2 linked regions of the Homo sapiens genome follow. The protein of the gene in region 2 interacts with the protein of the main gene of each other region in a pairwise test. Each region holds a gene or a part of one and is shown on either strand. Other genes may lie near its edges.

Region 1 (6,229 bases), on a different chromosome or scaffold from region 2:
ATCTGCTTTAGTGCTCCAAAAGTGATCCAGATAAAACGTACACCGAGTTTTGTCATCTTGCCATAGCCAGAAACTTACTAGGATGCTTCCTTTGGCATGGACATAGATCGTCTCAGTCTCTGCTCTGCCCATGCTATTACCCATGTGCTTTAATTTTTCAGTCACTTCAACACTTCCTGGTTGACAGTCCAGAGTTCCAGAAACCACTGACTCTCCAGACACCACCTTTCACTGGGTACCACACTGGTGTGTTTTTCTACTTAACAAACACTTCACTACTCTACAAGACACGGATATTGTGTGAGAACTTGCATGGTGGTGTCACAATATTAAAATGAAAAGTTTGTACAGAAATATAAAAAGGTTTTCTTCTAAGACAAGTAATAGTAGGAATGTTTTAACTTCAACTAGGAAACTTTCCCCAAGGGTGAAAAATAAAAACATTTAGTCCATTAATGAATTGTAATTTTGTATCTTCCACACAGCACATTGTAATTGTTACATCAGTTAACAAATGCAGGTTTGTCTGTTCTCCAGTTCAGTAGTTTGCTTTTTTTTTTTTTTTTTTTTTTTTTGAGGTGGAGTCTCACTGTCACCAGGCTGGAGTGCAGTGATGTGATCTCGGCTCACTGCAACCTCCACCTTCCGGGTTCAAGTGATTCTCCTGCGTCAGCCTTCCGAGAAGCTGGGACTACAGGCACGATGCCCAACTAATTTTTGTATTTTTAGTAGAGACCGGGTTCACCATGTTGTCAAGGATGGTGTCGACCTCTTGACCTCCAAAAGTGTTGGGATTGCAGGCGTGAGCCACCGCGCCTGGCCTTGCCTTTTTTCTTAAAACCGAACTGTATCTCTGCTGGGGGCAGTGGTTCACTCCCTACATGACAGTCAGCTCCTCTCACCCAGCATGTCCTTTGATATCCCCATCACTCCCCAGTTGAGGGTCTCATCCACACTCAGTCTAGGCTTTGGTTAGCCTCCATAGAATCAGATAGTCACCAACCACACAGCATATGAACTTCATCCACAAAAGACCACAATTTGCTTTATCAAGTCTGATCACTGCAACAAGTCTTTTTCTAACAAAAAATCTCCTTGAGAGCAAATCACTAAATGTTCAGTAATAGAGAAGACACTAAGTAAATACATTGCCGAATAAAGATGTCTTCGTTTACCCTCTCACAAAGTACAATCCTTCTTAGTATTTCTTCTGAGAGTGATAAAGTCAGCTTGTGTCTTGTGTTATAAAGGAATGTTTTAACTTCAATTAAGAAACTTTCCCCAAGGGTCAAGAAAGTAACAAAAATATTTAGTCCATTAATCGAATTGTAATTTTGTATCTTCCACACAGTACATTGTAATTATTACATCAGTTATCAAATGCACATTTGTCTGTTCTCCAAGTTCAGTAGTTAGCCTTTTTCTTAAAACTGAACTCTATCTATGGAAAGGCTTTCCATTCATAGACAACTTGAATTTAGCTGGATGTATTACAGACTGTATGAAGCAACTCTTGTACCACTGGGGGCCCACCCTCCGCCTGAGACTGTGGAACATGATTTATGGGGGTGGGGGTGCATGAATGGCACACAAATGATGAGTAATTACTAGTGAGAGTAATTCTAGTATGTAGAATGAAAACAGGAATGGTTAAATCATTTTGAAGAGAATGAAGAAGTAAATTAACAATGCATTGCAAATACATTAGATTTTAATCTTTAATATCTAACATTATTGCTTTAGGAAAGTATTTCCCTGAACCAAGAATACAATGCTAATTGCATAAAAACATACACATATAAAAAGTAGTTCTCCATTTTCCCAGGAAAAAATCCAAGTATAACTTCTAGAATAGTCAAGTTTCTTATTTTTATTATAATTAAAGTCTTGGTCATTTCATTTATTAGCTCTGCAACTTACATATTTAAATTAAAGAAACGTTATTAGACAACTGTTACAATTTATAAATGTAAGGTGCCATTATTGAGTAAATATATTCCTCCAAGAGTGGATGTGTCCCTTCTCCCACCAACTAATGAAGCAGCAACATTAGTTTAATTTTATTAGTAGATGATACACTGCTGCAAACGCTAATTCTCTTCTCCATCCCCATGTTGATTTTGTGTATATGTGTGAGTTGGTTAGAATGCATCAACAATCTAACAATCAACAGCAAGATGAGCTAGGCTTGGGCTTTCGGTGAAGATTGACTGTGTCTGTCTGAATCAAATGATCTGACCTATCCTCGGTAGCAAGAACTCTTCGAACCGCTTCCTCAAAGGCTGCTGCCACATTTGTGGCATCTTTTGCACTTGTTTCAAAATAAGGATAGTCGCCGTTGTCCCTGCACCAAGCTTGGGCTTCTTCTGTAGACACCTGCCGTTCGCTTATGTCAATCTTGTTACCCAGAATCACAAAAGGAAAGCTCTCAGGCTCTTTCACATCTGCATAATATATGAATTCTTTCTTCCAGTTACTTAAGTTCTGGAAGCTTTGTGAATCATCGACACTAAAAGTAAGCAGGCAGCAGTCAGAACCTCTGTAAAATGGTGTCCTCAGGCTTCGGAATCGCTCCTGACCTGCCGTGTCCCAAATCTGCATGGTAACAAAATGTCCATCCACTTCCAAATCTTTATTTAAAAATTCCACACCTATTGTATGGAAGAGCTGGGTATCAAACTTATTAGTTACATATCTGTTCATAAGTGAACTCTTCCCAACTCCACCATCTCCAAGGAGAATTACTTTAAAAAGTGATGATTTTCCTGCCATTGTTAATCTCAAAAGCTTCAAGAACCCTGTAAAATAAAAAGGCACCATTACATTCCTTTATACCTACACATTCTTCTACATGATTCTACGAATATCAGCATTTAGCTGAAATAAAACATATGGCCCCAGGGAATACCTAATAATAAGACTTGTTGTTTACTGAGCACTTAGCCATGTGCAGGCTACTATTCTACCATTATTCTCTGAAACAGCTGGGAAGGGCTCACTCTTCCCTTTTCTCAGGTCACAGTTGACTGTGAAGCTGGCACTCAAGCCCAAGTCTGACCCCAAAGCCCTTGCTCTGAACCGTTACTCTATGATAAGCCCCTCTCTGCTCATAGTAAGCCCCACCATTTGTTAGAGATGGGTAGGAGACCAAAGTTCGCATGTTGTTGTTGTTGTTGTTTTGGTTTTGTTTTTTTTTTTGAGACAGGATCTCGCTGTCACCCAGGTTGGAGTGCATGGGACCATCTTGGCTTACTGCAGCCTTGAACTCCCAGGCTCAAGCAATCCTCCCACCTCAGCCTCCCAAGTAGCTGAAATCACAGGTGCACACCACCATGCCTTGCTAATTTTTCTATTTTTTTGTAGAGACAGGGTCTCAACCACGTTGCCCAGGCTGGCTTCAAACTCCTGGGCCCAAGCAATCCACCTGTCTTGGCCTCCCAAAGTGCTGGGACTACAGGCGTGAGACACCATGCCCAGCCCACATGTTTCTCTTAACAACTTCAAACAGCCCTTCAGTGCACAGTGATGGTGTTCACTTAAGGCCTCTCTCCTACCAGGGACTTTCTCTACTACTCCCTCCACCTCTCTTCAGACACAGGTGCTGTTAACCAGGAAAGCCAGAGACAGAAACTGACTTACCTGGCTGTGAAATAAAGTATGAACCAACCACTGAGTAAATGGACTTTATTCTCTTCATTAAGAACATTATTTTGAATTTGTTCAAATTAATGTCAGCAGCAATGGAATTTTTAATATAATCTAGCACATTCTATCCACAAGATTCACTTGGGCAGTTCAAACACTTAAGGAACATGAGACTGCTGCTACTTGTGTGTTTTCAGGTAGAATGAAATAAACCTTAAATGAAAATGTGGTACTATATGTGTTCTTTAGAAGTCCTGTGGCAGGATTAAAAACTTTACTACACTACAAGAGCCAGCCTGTGGGGGGTGAGATTTCAGATGCCCGTTGACAGACAGCTACTTCTAGGTGCTGGTGGGAGCACAGTTCCTGGTTAATCCTTCTGCTTACATTTTTATTGTGAAAAATGTAAAACATGTACAAAATTTCTATATAATGAGTACAATACAATGAGCTCCCATGAACTCTAAACCCAGCTTCACAATTATCAACTTATGGCAAATCTTGTTTCCTCCATAACCCCTCCAACTCTCCCTTCTCCCCAGTTATTTCGAATCAGATTATATCATTTAATCTGTACTTTAGTATTAAATGGTTTTTAAGTATACTAAAATGTATATAAGAAGATAACTATTAGAGCAGCACTGTACAAGAGAATTTTATGCAACAATGGAAATGTCCAATATAGCAGCCACTTAGCCGCATGTGACTGTGGAACACTTGACATGAGGCTGATGGAAGTGAAAAACCGCATTTTAAATTTTATTCAATTTTAAATAAATAGCCACATTTAATGAGCCAATTGGAGAGCACAGATCTAGAGCAAATTTGGTCAATAACCTTAATAGGAAAGTAGGTATTATGAATCCCTCCATGGGAAGGCAATAAAGACATGAACAATAATTGTTATATTGACCAGGATGAATTTGTAAAATCACTGCAGTAAACATTATCTGGCTGTCTCCTGGTTATATGCAATGTGAGCAACTATAGTGTAACTGAACACTTACTGTAACATGTAGGAATTCTGCACTTCTAGCCACATGCTCCACTGTTCTGATAAAAACCTTGTAGTGGCTTGTATAGTGAGAAATCAAGTGAATGGGAAATACTATTAAAAAATGATGGGACATACCTTAGTCCCTACCTCTTACTGGTTCTTTCAAATTACTACTACAGGCCAGGCACGATGGCTCACACCTGTAATCCCAGCACTTGGGGAGGCTGAGGCGGGCAGGTCACTTGAGGTCAGGAGTTCGAGACCAGCCTGGCCAACATGGTGAAACCCCGTCTCTACTAAAAATACAAAAAAAAAAAAAAAATTAGCTGGACGTGGTGGCAAGCGCCTGTAGTCCCAGGTACTAGGCTGAGGCAGGAGAATCCCTTGAACCTGGGAGGCGTAGGTTGCCGTGAGCTGAGATTGCACCACTGCACTCCAGCCTAGGTGACAAAGCAAGACTCCATCTCAAAAAACAAAACAAATTAATACTACAGTAATTACTACTATAATTAATATTAATACAATTTAAACTGTCCAACACAAGTGTGTGGCAGTTAAGGTGCATACCTTTTGAGAGACTTTTTCAATTTCAAATGTATTGCTCAATATCCAGACTATTAATGTTAAAGAGGAAACTGCAACAGTCCCAAGCCCCTTACTTTCCTGACATAGGTAACAATGTGCTAAATTGGCTGCTTTAATTCTTTGGCATCTTGCTTCAACAACTTAAAAAGAAAAGATTGAAAACCATAAAAGCAAACCAACTATTTTGACATAGGGGAACCATCTATCTAATGTCTCCTCAGAATTCTTCAGCGGGTTGTTTCCCAGAGATCCAGGACTAAGTCCAACTTCTAAGGCAAGACACCTGGCCCCTGCTCTTGGCCAGCCTCACTCTAGCCACCTTCCCCTCACAGTCTCTGCTTCAGTCATTCTGAATGCACCATCACCCGGAACTAAAATTCAATTCCACTCACTCAGCACACCCCACACCCTCTTGCCTCCACCCTGGCATATGCTGCTCCTTGCTGGTGACCCCCCCAATGAACCGCTGTGCCTTCAGAACTGCTTAGCATGGTCACCTCCACTGGGAACCCTGCCCCAGCAACTCTCCCAATGTTGTTCCTTTCACACAATTTCCATGTTGTGTTATGAGAGTACAACAGACATAATTTATTCCAGTATTTTAATAAGTCTCTACTGATCTAACAGCCTTACCAGACACAAAGTTTTACTGTACATCACTGAATTTTTAGCATCTTTATATCAAATTATAAGCCAGATCATGCAATCTAACAAACCCCACCCAGACTATTGGTTGCATATATCTACTAAATTAAGTTGTAGAAATTCCTTGAAAGTGGTAATTTGTAATTTTTCCAAGACACTTTGACAGTTCTTTTTTCATAATAATGTGGGACTTCTTAGTTTGTCTCATTCTGACCAAATGAATTTGGGGTATGCCAGCCCACCAGGAAACAGAGTATAGGGTACAATTTTTTACATTTCCCATCTACAGTTTGAGGCCTACCAGATATTCCTATTTGGGAATATATTTGCATTTGCTAAAATAATTAATTTCTACAT
Region 2 (8,860 bases):
TAGACACTTATGGCAAAGGAGGAAAAGATAAATTACAAGTACACAGCATGAGGCCAGGTGCGGTGGCTCATGCCTATAAGCCCAGGACTTTGGGAGGCCAAGGCAGGTGGATCACTTGATGTCAGAAGTTCAAGACCAGCCTGGCCAATATGATGAAACCCCGTCTCTACTAAAAATACAAAAACTAGCCCAACATGGTGGTGCCTGCCTGTAATCCCAGCTACTTGGGAGGCTGAGGCAGGAGAATCACTTGAACCCAGGAGGTGAAGGTTGCAGTGAGCAGAAATCACACCACTGCCCTCCAGCCTGGGCAACAGAGTGAGACTCTGTCTCAAAAAACAAAAAAAAAAAACAAAACAAAATACACAGCATGGAGGAGAATATCTGTGTAGAGGGCCACCTGCTTCACTGGCAAGAGGTTAGGAGAAGCTCTCAGGACCCTGGATGGTTTCAATAACGGATAGATCAATGGCCTAAACTTTAATCTCCCGCGGAAAGGACTCTCCCAGAAATCATCCTTATTCACCTGCCTCAAATGGAAGTTCTAGGATGTTTGCACCTGGAATGAGCAACACCAAGGAGGATAGGGCTGGAAAGGAGACTTCACCCAAACCAACCGGCCCTGCTGCCTGGTTTAGACCCTCAAGGAGGAGAGCTCGGGGCCCAGAGTTGCTCATTCTCTATTGCATGGCAGTTCCCAGATCCCAGGCTTAGAAACCTGTTTTTTTGTTTGTTTGTTTGTTTTTTGTGTTTTTTTTTTGAGATGGAGTCTCGCTCTGTCGCTCAGGCTAGAGTACAGTGGCGCGATCTTGGCTCACTGCGACCTCCACCTCCTGGGTTCAAGCGATTCTCCTGCCTCAGCCTCCTGAGATGGGATTACATGCATGTGCCACCATGCCCAGTTAATTTTTGTATTTTTAGTAGAGACGGGGTTTCACCATGTTGGTCAAGCTGGTCTCGAACTCCTGATCTCGTGATCTGCCCGCCTGGGTCTCCCAAAGTGCTGGGATTACAGACATGAGCCACCACACCTGGCCAAGAAACCTGTTTTATCAGCAGAGGTGGCAACCCAGAGAGCTTTCTGTCATGAGAAAAGCTCTACTGCTTCCGTTGGACAGAAGGGCACTGCCAGCTCCAGCAGCAACACACTCCTGCCGTGGTGGTGAATCCTGATGCCTGAGATGGGCACTGGAGACTCCTGAGGTAGGAATGACCCAGCCAGGAGCCCCACAATCCCTGCAAATGCCAACCTTCTTCTCCCCACAACTGTCACGAACTGAACACCAGCTCTTGCCTTTCCACATTAAGGCTTGTGTGGACCACTCTGCCTCTTACTCAATGTTTCCAGACCTAACATTTGTGTCAGCTGGCAGCAGAATTTTAGTTTTGCTGGGAATTTCTTTTCACACTGGGCTCCAGCTGGATGAGTTCTGAGGGAGACCACTGCTCCATCTGAAGCTCCGGAGTGTTAGCCATAATGGCAGAATGACCACAGACAGTCAGCCCCGTCTGAACAGCCTGTTGCTGCCAGATGGTGACCTGTTTCTGTTAAACCCCAGTGAGTTTCTGCCTGGCCTCAAATCATCACACAGGGCCTTTCAATCTGGATAGGCCTAAGCCATGGCCAAACCATGGAGAGAGCGAGCCCAGGTTGTTCTGTGATGGGATGGAAAGGACCACACAGTGTCACAAGGTTTCCAACAGAAACCTGACGTCAGAGAAGCATTTCGTAAAAGGAGAACCATATCTTAAAAGTGAACGGGCATGGGTCCGGGTGAGATGGCTCATGCCTGTAATCCCAGCACTTTGGGAGGCCAAGGCGGGCGGATCACTTGAGACCAGGAGTTCAAGACCAGCCTGACCAACATGGTGAAACCCCATCCCTACTAAAAATACACAAATTAGCCAGGTGTGGTGGTGGGCACCTGTAATCCTAGCTACTCAGGAGGCTGAGGCAGGAGAATCTCTTGAACCCAGGAGGTGGAGGTTGCAGTGAGCCGAGATTGCGCCACTGCCCTACAGCCTGGGCAACGGAGAGAGACTTTGTCTCAAAAAAAAAAAAAAAAGTGTGGCTAGGCACGGTGGCTCGCGCCTATAATCCCAGCACTTTGGGAGGCCAAGGCAGGTGGATCACTTGAGGTCAGGAGTTCAAGACCAGCCTGACCAACATGGTGAAACCCCATCTCTACTAAAAATACAAAATTATCTGGGCATGGTGGTGCATGCCTATAATCCCAGCTACTTGGGAGGCTGAGGCAGGAGAATCACTTGAACCAGGGAGAAGGAGGTTGCAGTGAGCCGAGATCGTGCCACCGTGCTCCAGCCTGAGTAACAAGAGCAAAACTCCATTAAAAAAAGAAAAAGTGAATGGGGCATGGACACAGTGGCTTGCACCTGTAACCCCACACTTTGGGAGGCTGGAGTGAGAGGAAGGCTTGAGGCCAGGAGTTCAAGACCAGCCTTAGCAACACAGGGAGACTCAGTCTCTACAAAAAAACCAAAAAACGAAAAAAGTGAATGGGCAGGGCTCAGAAAAAGCAGTTATCACTTCTCCACTAGTATCTCCTCCTGAGCCTGGGTGGAGTTACTCATGGGGTCAGGATCCCTCTGTGCACGACATGGTTTCCGGGTTAGGGACCTTCAGGTCCCTCCCCGCCCTCACCAGACAGCCTTTACTCTGGGAGAGAGGAAAGAAGGGAAATAGCTACTGAGAATTTAGGAAAAGGAGGAAGAGGAGCAGGCAGAAGGCACACTGACCCTTAACACTTCAGTTTGTAACGTGTGTGTAGATACTATTTTATGTAAATCTTTGTCCTGGTGACTCAGGTCCTTAGGGATTTTGAGAACATTTAAAACTCTTATGAGTTTTTCTGTAAAGCCACAGAGAACAAAACTATTGATCTAAACCAAATAGTCAATACAATTTTTACATCTACCTACCTACCAGTCCCTCTCCAGGAATGAGCTACCCCAGCTAATTTTTTTTTTCCCCCGCCGAGACAGGGTCTCACTCTGTCACCCAGGCTGGAGTGTAATGGCATGATCCTGGCTCACTGCAGCCTCGAACTTCTGGGCTCAAGTGACCCTCCTGCCTCAGCCTCCTGAGTAGCTGGGACTATAGGCATGTGCCACCATGTCCACCTAATTTTTTATTTTTATTTTTGAAGACACAGGGTCTCATTATGTTGCACAGGCTGGTCTTGAATTCCTGGACTCAAGTGATCCTCCCACCTCAGCCCCGCAAAGTGCTGGGATTATAGTTGTGAGCCACTATGCCCACTGCCTCGCCTCCCCGCCCCCAGCTAATTTTTTTGTACTTGCAGATCTAACCTATCTCAGGAGTAGAAAAATGAGAAAAAGTTCACCATGCAAGGCAGCCTTTTCAACTGCACAGACAGGCTGGGCTGAACAACAGCTGTGGCTCATTCACCAGCGCCAGTAAATCCCGATCCCGACTAGGGACTGGGAGACTCCTGCTCAAGGCAGTGTGCCTGGCCAGAAATAGAACTTCACTCAGAGCCGACGCCGGTGAGGCACTGTCTGCCCAAACCGAAGTGGGTGGGAGACTGAGGCGAGAGAAGGTTGTCAGGACCCAGGAACTGAGAGATGGTTACCCTATTACAATTCATTTATCCCTTTTAAAGGGTAGGAGAACAGGGGCAATTACTTTTCATTTTATGTACTTCTGAGCTATTTGTGTGTTTTTAAAAACAACTATTTTCTTAGAATAATTTTACGGCCAAGTGCAGTGGCTCATGCCTGTAATCTTAGCACTTATGCAGGCCGAGGTGGGAGGATCACCTGAGCTCAGGAGTTCGAGACCAACCTGGGCAACATAGTGAGACCTTGTCTCCACACTAAAAAATTAAAAATTAGCTGGACGTGGTGGCATATGTCTGTAGTTCCAGCTACTCAGGTGGCTGAGGCGGGAGAATCGCTTGATCCCAGGAGTTGAAGGCTACAGTGAGCCATGATGGTGCCACTGTACTCCAGCCTGGGCCACAGAGTGAAACCCTGTCTCAAACAAACACACACACAAAAAGAATCATTTTTCATTCTCTTATCCTACTCAGTGTCCCTTGCAGGATGCAATGTCATTGCCTTAGGGAATCTTCCCTGATCGTCTCCAAAGCAAACCTCCCTGCCAATTCTTTATCACATTGCTTTAATGCCTTCATAATGCTTACCATGATCTGAAATCATCTCTGTATTTGTCTACGAATTTATCACCTTCTTTTTCTTCTAGAATGTCAGCTCCATGAGGGCAGATACTCATCTGCCTGTTCATATGAACCTTCCTAGGGCCTATGATGGTGAGGTTCTAGGGAAGGTGCTCACTAAATAGTTTTGAATAACTGAATACAGGGACACATGATGGGATTTACAAGTGTCCACATTCACTCCACAAGCCTAATGTGCAAAAACACAGCTACAATAGAGATTTGGTTAACTATAGCACTGGTGCACCAACTTCTCTGGAAGTAATCCCTGGCCTACCTTGGCAAGGACTTTTTCATATGAACACATGCGTCGTATGCGAACTACTGCCTGTGGGCTAAAACCAGCCTGATACCTATTTTTGTAAATAAAGTTTTATTGGAACAAAGCCACACTCATACACATTTGGTTGCTTTTGAGCAGAACTGAGCAGTTTCAACAAAGACTATACGGCCTGAAAATATTTGCCATGTGGCCTTTTAAGAAAAAGTTGGAGCTTGAAGAAACAGCAGTGTAGTATAAGACTCTCACTGAAGCCGGAGGCAGTGGCTCACGACTGTACTTTGGGAGGCCAAGGTGGGTGTATTACTGGAAACCAGGAGTTTGAGACCAGCCTGGCCAACATGGTGAAACCCTGTCTCTACTAAAAATACAAAAATTAGCAGGGCGTGGTGGTCTGTGCCCGTAATCCCAGCTACTTGGAGGTTGAGGCACGAGAATTGCTTGAACCCAGGAGGAGGGGGTTGCAGTGAACCAAGATCATGCCACTGCACTCCAGTCTGGGTGACAGAGCAAGACTGTCTCAAAAAAACAAAACAAAAAAAAAAAAAACCTCGGCTGGGTGCGGTGGCTCACACCTGTAATCCCAGCACTTTGGGAGGCCGAAGCAGGCAGATCACCTGAGGTAGGGAGTTTGAGGCCAGCCTGGCCAACATGGCGAAACCCTGTCTCTACTAAAAATACAAAATTAGCCAGGCGTAGTGGCTCATGCCTGTAATCCCAGCTACTTGGGAGGCTGAGGCTCGAGAATCACTTGAACTTGGGAGGCGGAGGTTGCAGTGAGCTGAGATCGTGCCACTGCACTCCAGCCTGGGCAACAAGAGCGAAATTCCGTCTCAAAAACAAAAACACAAAAAACACCACCACTCACTGAAGACTGCACAAGGGTGATCTGCAGAGTCCACAGAGACGCTTGCAAGTAGTAATGGTGGCTTTTATTTAGGCCTGACTGTAAGCAAGGTATTGTGCTAAGTGCTGTAAGTGTGTTCTCTCATATAATTGAATTATCATTATAGCATTAGTAGAAGGTTCTCACTGCTGATGCGAACAGTGGTCCAGTCATCTGCCAGGATCGAGATGGTCAGTTACAAACCCAGACCCAAGTCTGCATACCGCTGAAGCCTGCGTTTGTGTCCACTAGGCTACATGGCTTCCACAGAAAGCACCTTCCAGCCGCATCTTGCAGAACCCTTGGCAATCTTAAGACAGGTCCCTCTTAAGACAGGTCACGCCTGTCCTCGGAAGACCATCTGGAAGGCCCCACTTCCTTGGGGATGCCTAGGCTGTTTCTTCTGTCTTGAATGCCTGCTTCTTCTCTTTCTCTGAACTCTACCAGTATTTCTTTCTTTCTTTTTTTTTTTTTTTTGAGACGGAGTTTCGCTCTTTTTGCCCAGGCTGGAGTGCAATGGTGCCACAACTCACCACAACCTCCGCCTCCCGAGTTTAAGCGATTCTCCTGCCTCAGCCTCCCGAGTAGCTGGGATTACAGGTATGCACCACCACACCTAGCTAATTTTGTATTTTTAATAGAGATGGGGTTTCTCGATGTTGGTCAGGCCGGTCTCGATCTCCTGACCTCAGGTGATCCGCCCGCCTCGGCCTCCCAAAGTGTTGGGGTTACAGGCATGAGCCACCGCGCCTGGCCAGGAGGTTGCTTCTTATGGCATATAGTCTTTGCTCATTCTGCAGGCATATGCAGCAGACACACCAGCTCCTCAAAAACAGAACTTGGGAAAATCACTGCCTGCCTTCCCTCCCCTGGAGAAGATGTTATTTAGTAGAACCACATGCTGATTCAAAAATGCCAAAGCTGTCGTTGACTTGGACATTTCTCTTTAACAAATCGGCAACCACAGGCTTTACTGGCAGCATCTGGGATGTTTCTGCTACTAGCTCCCTTTCTAGAATTGAATATGAATTGAATTTGCTATTGTTATCATTTCCTTTTTTTTTTTTTTTTTTGAGACAGAGTCTCCCTCTGTCACCCACGCTGGAGTGCAATGGCGCGATCTCAGTTCACTGCAACCTCCACCTCCCAGGTCAAGTGCTTCCCTGCCTCAGCCTCCCAAGTAGCTGGGACTACAGGCACGCGCCACCACACCCAGCTAATTTCTGTATTTTTGGTAGAGATGGGGTTTCACCATGTTGGCAAGGCTGGTCTTGAACTTCTGGCCTCAAGTTATCCATCCACCTTGGCCTCCCAAAGTGCTGGGATTACAGGCGTGAGCCACCATGCCTGGCCTATTGTTATCATTTTCATTTAATCATGTTAATTATTAAACTCTCCAGTTCTCTCTCACCCTCAGGAATTCTGTGTCCATATCAGAACACAGGTTGCCTTGGATTCAGATGGATTAACAGCTGTTTCACCTGTCTGGTGTTATAATGGGTATTCACCATCACAAAATCTAAGTGTGAAAATAGTTGAACTCAACAATACTCCTTGGGGATAGTGGTTGCTTTGAGGGTGTAGTTTCTGGGAGGGGAACGAGGGGCCCTCTGGGATAATGGTCATGTTCTGTTTCTTGGTCAGGGTGCTGGATATGCAGGTGTTTTCACTTTGTGAGAACTCATTAAGCTGTCCGCTCAGGACCTGTACACTTTCCTGTAGGCATGCTTCATTTTCATAAAAAGTTCTAAAGTACTCTTTGCAAATATAGAAATACACAATGGATCTTTCCTTGCAGAAATATGCATCTCATTTTCTTCACGTAAAATCCTTATAAAATGACCAGTAAGACCATTTACTGGTGGTAGGATGCAAGAAAAAAGGCAAAGCAACTCTCAAGGTGCTATATAACACATTTAGGTGAGACTGGCATTCAAGGACAAATCTGACCCCAAGACTGCTGTCCTCAATGTCTACTGCTGTAGCCAAACTAACAGGTTCCTAGTAAAGCAGACACTCTGATTCAGAAAACCAAATGTAATTTATGATGCAAGAATCACATCGCAGTTGTCTCAAACAAACACACAAAGGAAGTGGCTACCAAGAACAAATGGTGTTGTAGAACGACCTTTAGGTGGTGAGGCAGTTGAGCCATCTTCAAACCTTGTAAAATTGAGGAATGGGCTCTTGCACAAAGAAAAAAGCTACCAGTTAAGACTGGGCCAGGATCCATGCTAAACACTCTACATGTTTATTAAAACTTCACCATGCCTGTAATCCCAGCACTTTGGGAGGCCGAGGTGAGCGGATCATGAGGTCAGGAGATCGAGACCATCCTGGCTAACACGGTGAAACCCCGTCTCTACTAAAAATACAAAAAAATTAGCCGGGCATAGTGGCGGGCGCCTGTAACCTGTAGTCCCAGCTACTCGGGAGGCTGAGGCAGGAGAATGGCGTGAACCTGAGAGACGGAGCTTGCAGCGAGCTGAGATCACGCCACTGCACTCCAGCCTGGGTGACAGAGCAAGACTCCATCTCAAAAAAAACAAAAAACAAAAAACAAACAAACAAAATCTTCATAACACAGCCTGACCAATATGGGCGAAATCCCATCTCTACAAAAAATACAAAAAGTAGTCGGGCACGGTGGCTCATGCCTGTAATCCCAGCACTTCGGGGGGCCAAGGCAGGCAGATCACTTGAGGTCAGGAGTTCAAGACCAGCCTGGCCAACATGGGGAAACCCCATCTCCACTAAAAATACAAAAATTAGACGCTGGGCGCCGTGGCTCACGCCTGTAATCCCAGCACTTTGGGAGGCCGAAGCGGGCAGATCACAAGGTGAGGAGATCGAGACCATCCCTGGTTAACATGGTGAAACCCCGTCTCTACTAAAAATACAAAAAAATTAGCCGGGCGTGGTGGCCGGCGCTTATAGTCCCAGCTACTTGGGAGGCTGAGGCAGGAGAATGGTGTGAACCCATGAGGCGGAGCTTGCACTGAGCGGAGATCAGGCCACTGCATTCTAACCTGGGCGACAGAGCGAGACTCCGTCTCAAAAAAAAAAAAAAAAAATTTAGCCGGGTGTGGTGGCGCACACCTGTAATCCCAGCTACTCGAGAGGCCGAGGCAGAAGAATCGCTTGAACCTGGGAGGTGGAGGTTGTAGTGAGCCGAGATCACACCACTGCCCTCCAGCCCAGGCAACAGAGCAAGACTCTGTCTCAAAAACAAACAACAACAACAACAACAACAAAAAAACACTCCACAACATCCCTAATTTTATCCCTGCTTTACAGATGAAGAAACTGGGCATGGAGAGGTTAATAAGCCTGACCAAGGTTACAGGGTTATTAATTTGGCAGGGCGGGGATTCAATCAGGCAGCTGGACTCCAGAATCCATGCTCCTAACAATGATGCTGCCCATGGCTTTGGTTGTGATACACCCAGGGATGGGTTTGCAGTTTCTAGTGTG

Evidence for each region. The genes of interacting proteins can lie anywhere in the genome.
Region 1: the proteins of PLEKHM2 (region 2) and RAB9A interact in binary tests that used the Homo sapiens proteins (3 or more experiments, as listed by UniProt).

Annotation. Positions count from the first base shown.
Region 1 is NC_000023.11:13,705,290-13,711,518, reverse strand, and holds the end of RAB9A (ras-related protein Rab-9A), read right to left. Parts: intron 2,799-6,229; 5' UTR 2,773-2,798; coding exon 2,167-2,772; 3' UTR 1,015-2,166; downstream 1-1,014. UniProt on the Homo sapiens protein: The small GTPases Rab are key regulators of intracellular membrane trafficking, from the formation of transport vesicles to their fusion with membranes.
Region 2 is NC_000001.11:15,686,249-15,695,108, reverse strand, and holds part of PLEKHM2 (pleckstrin homology domain-containing family M member 2), read right to left. Parts: intron 1-8,860. UniProt on the Homo sapiens protein: Plays a role in lysosomes movement and localization at the cell periphery acting as an effector of ARL8B.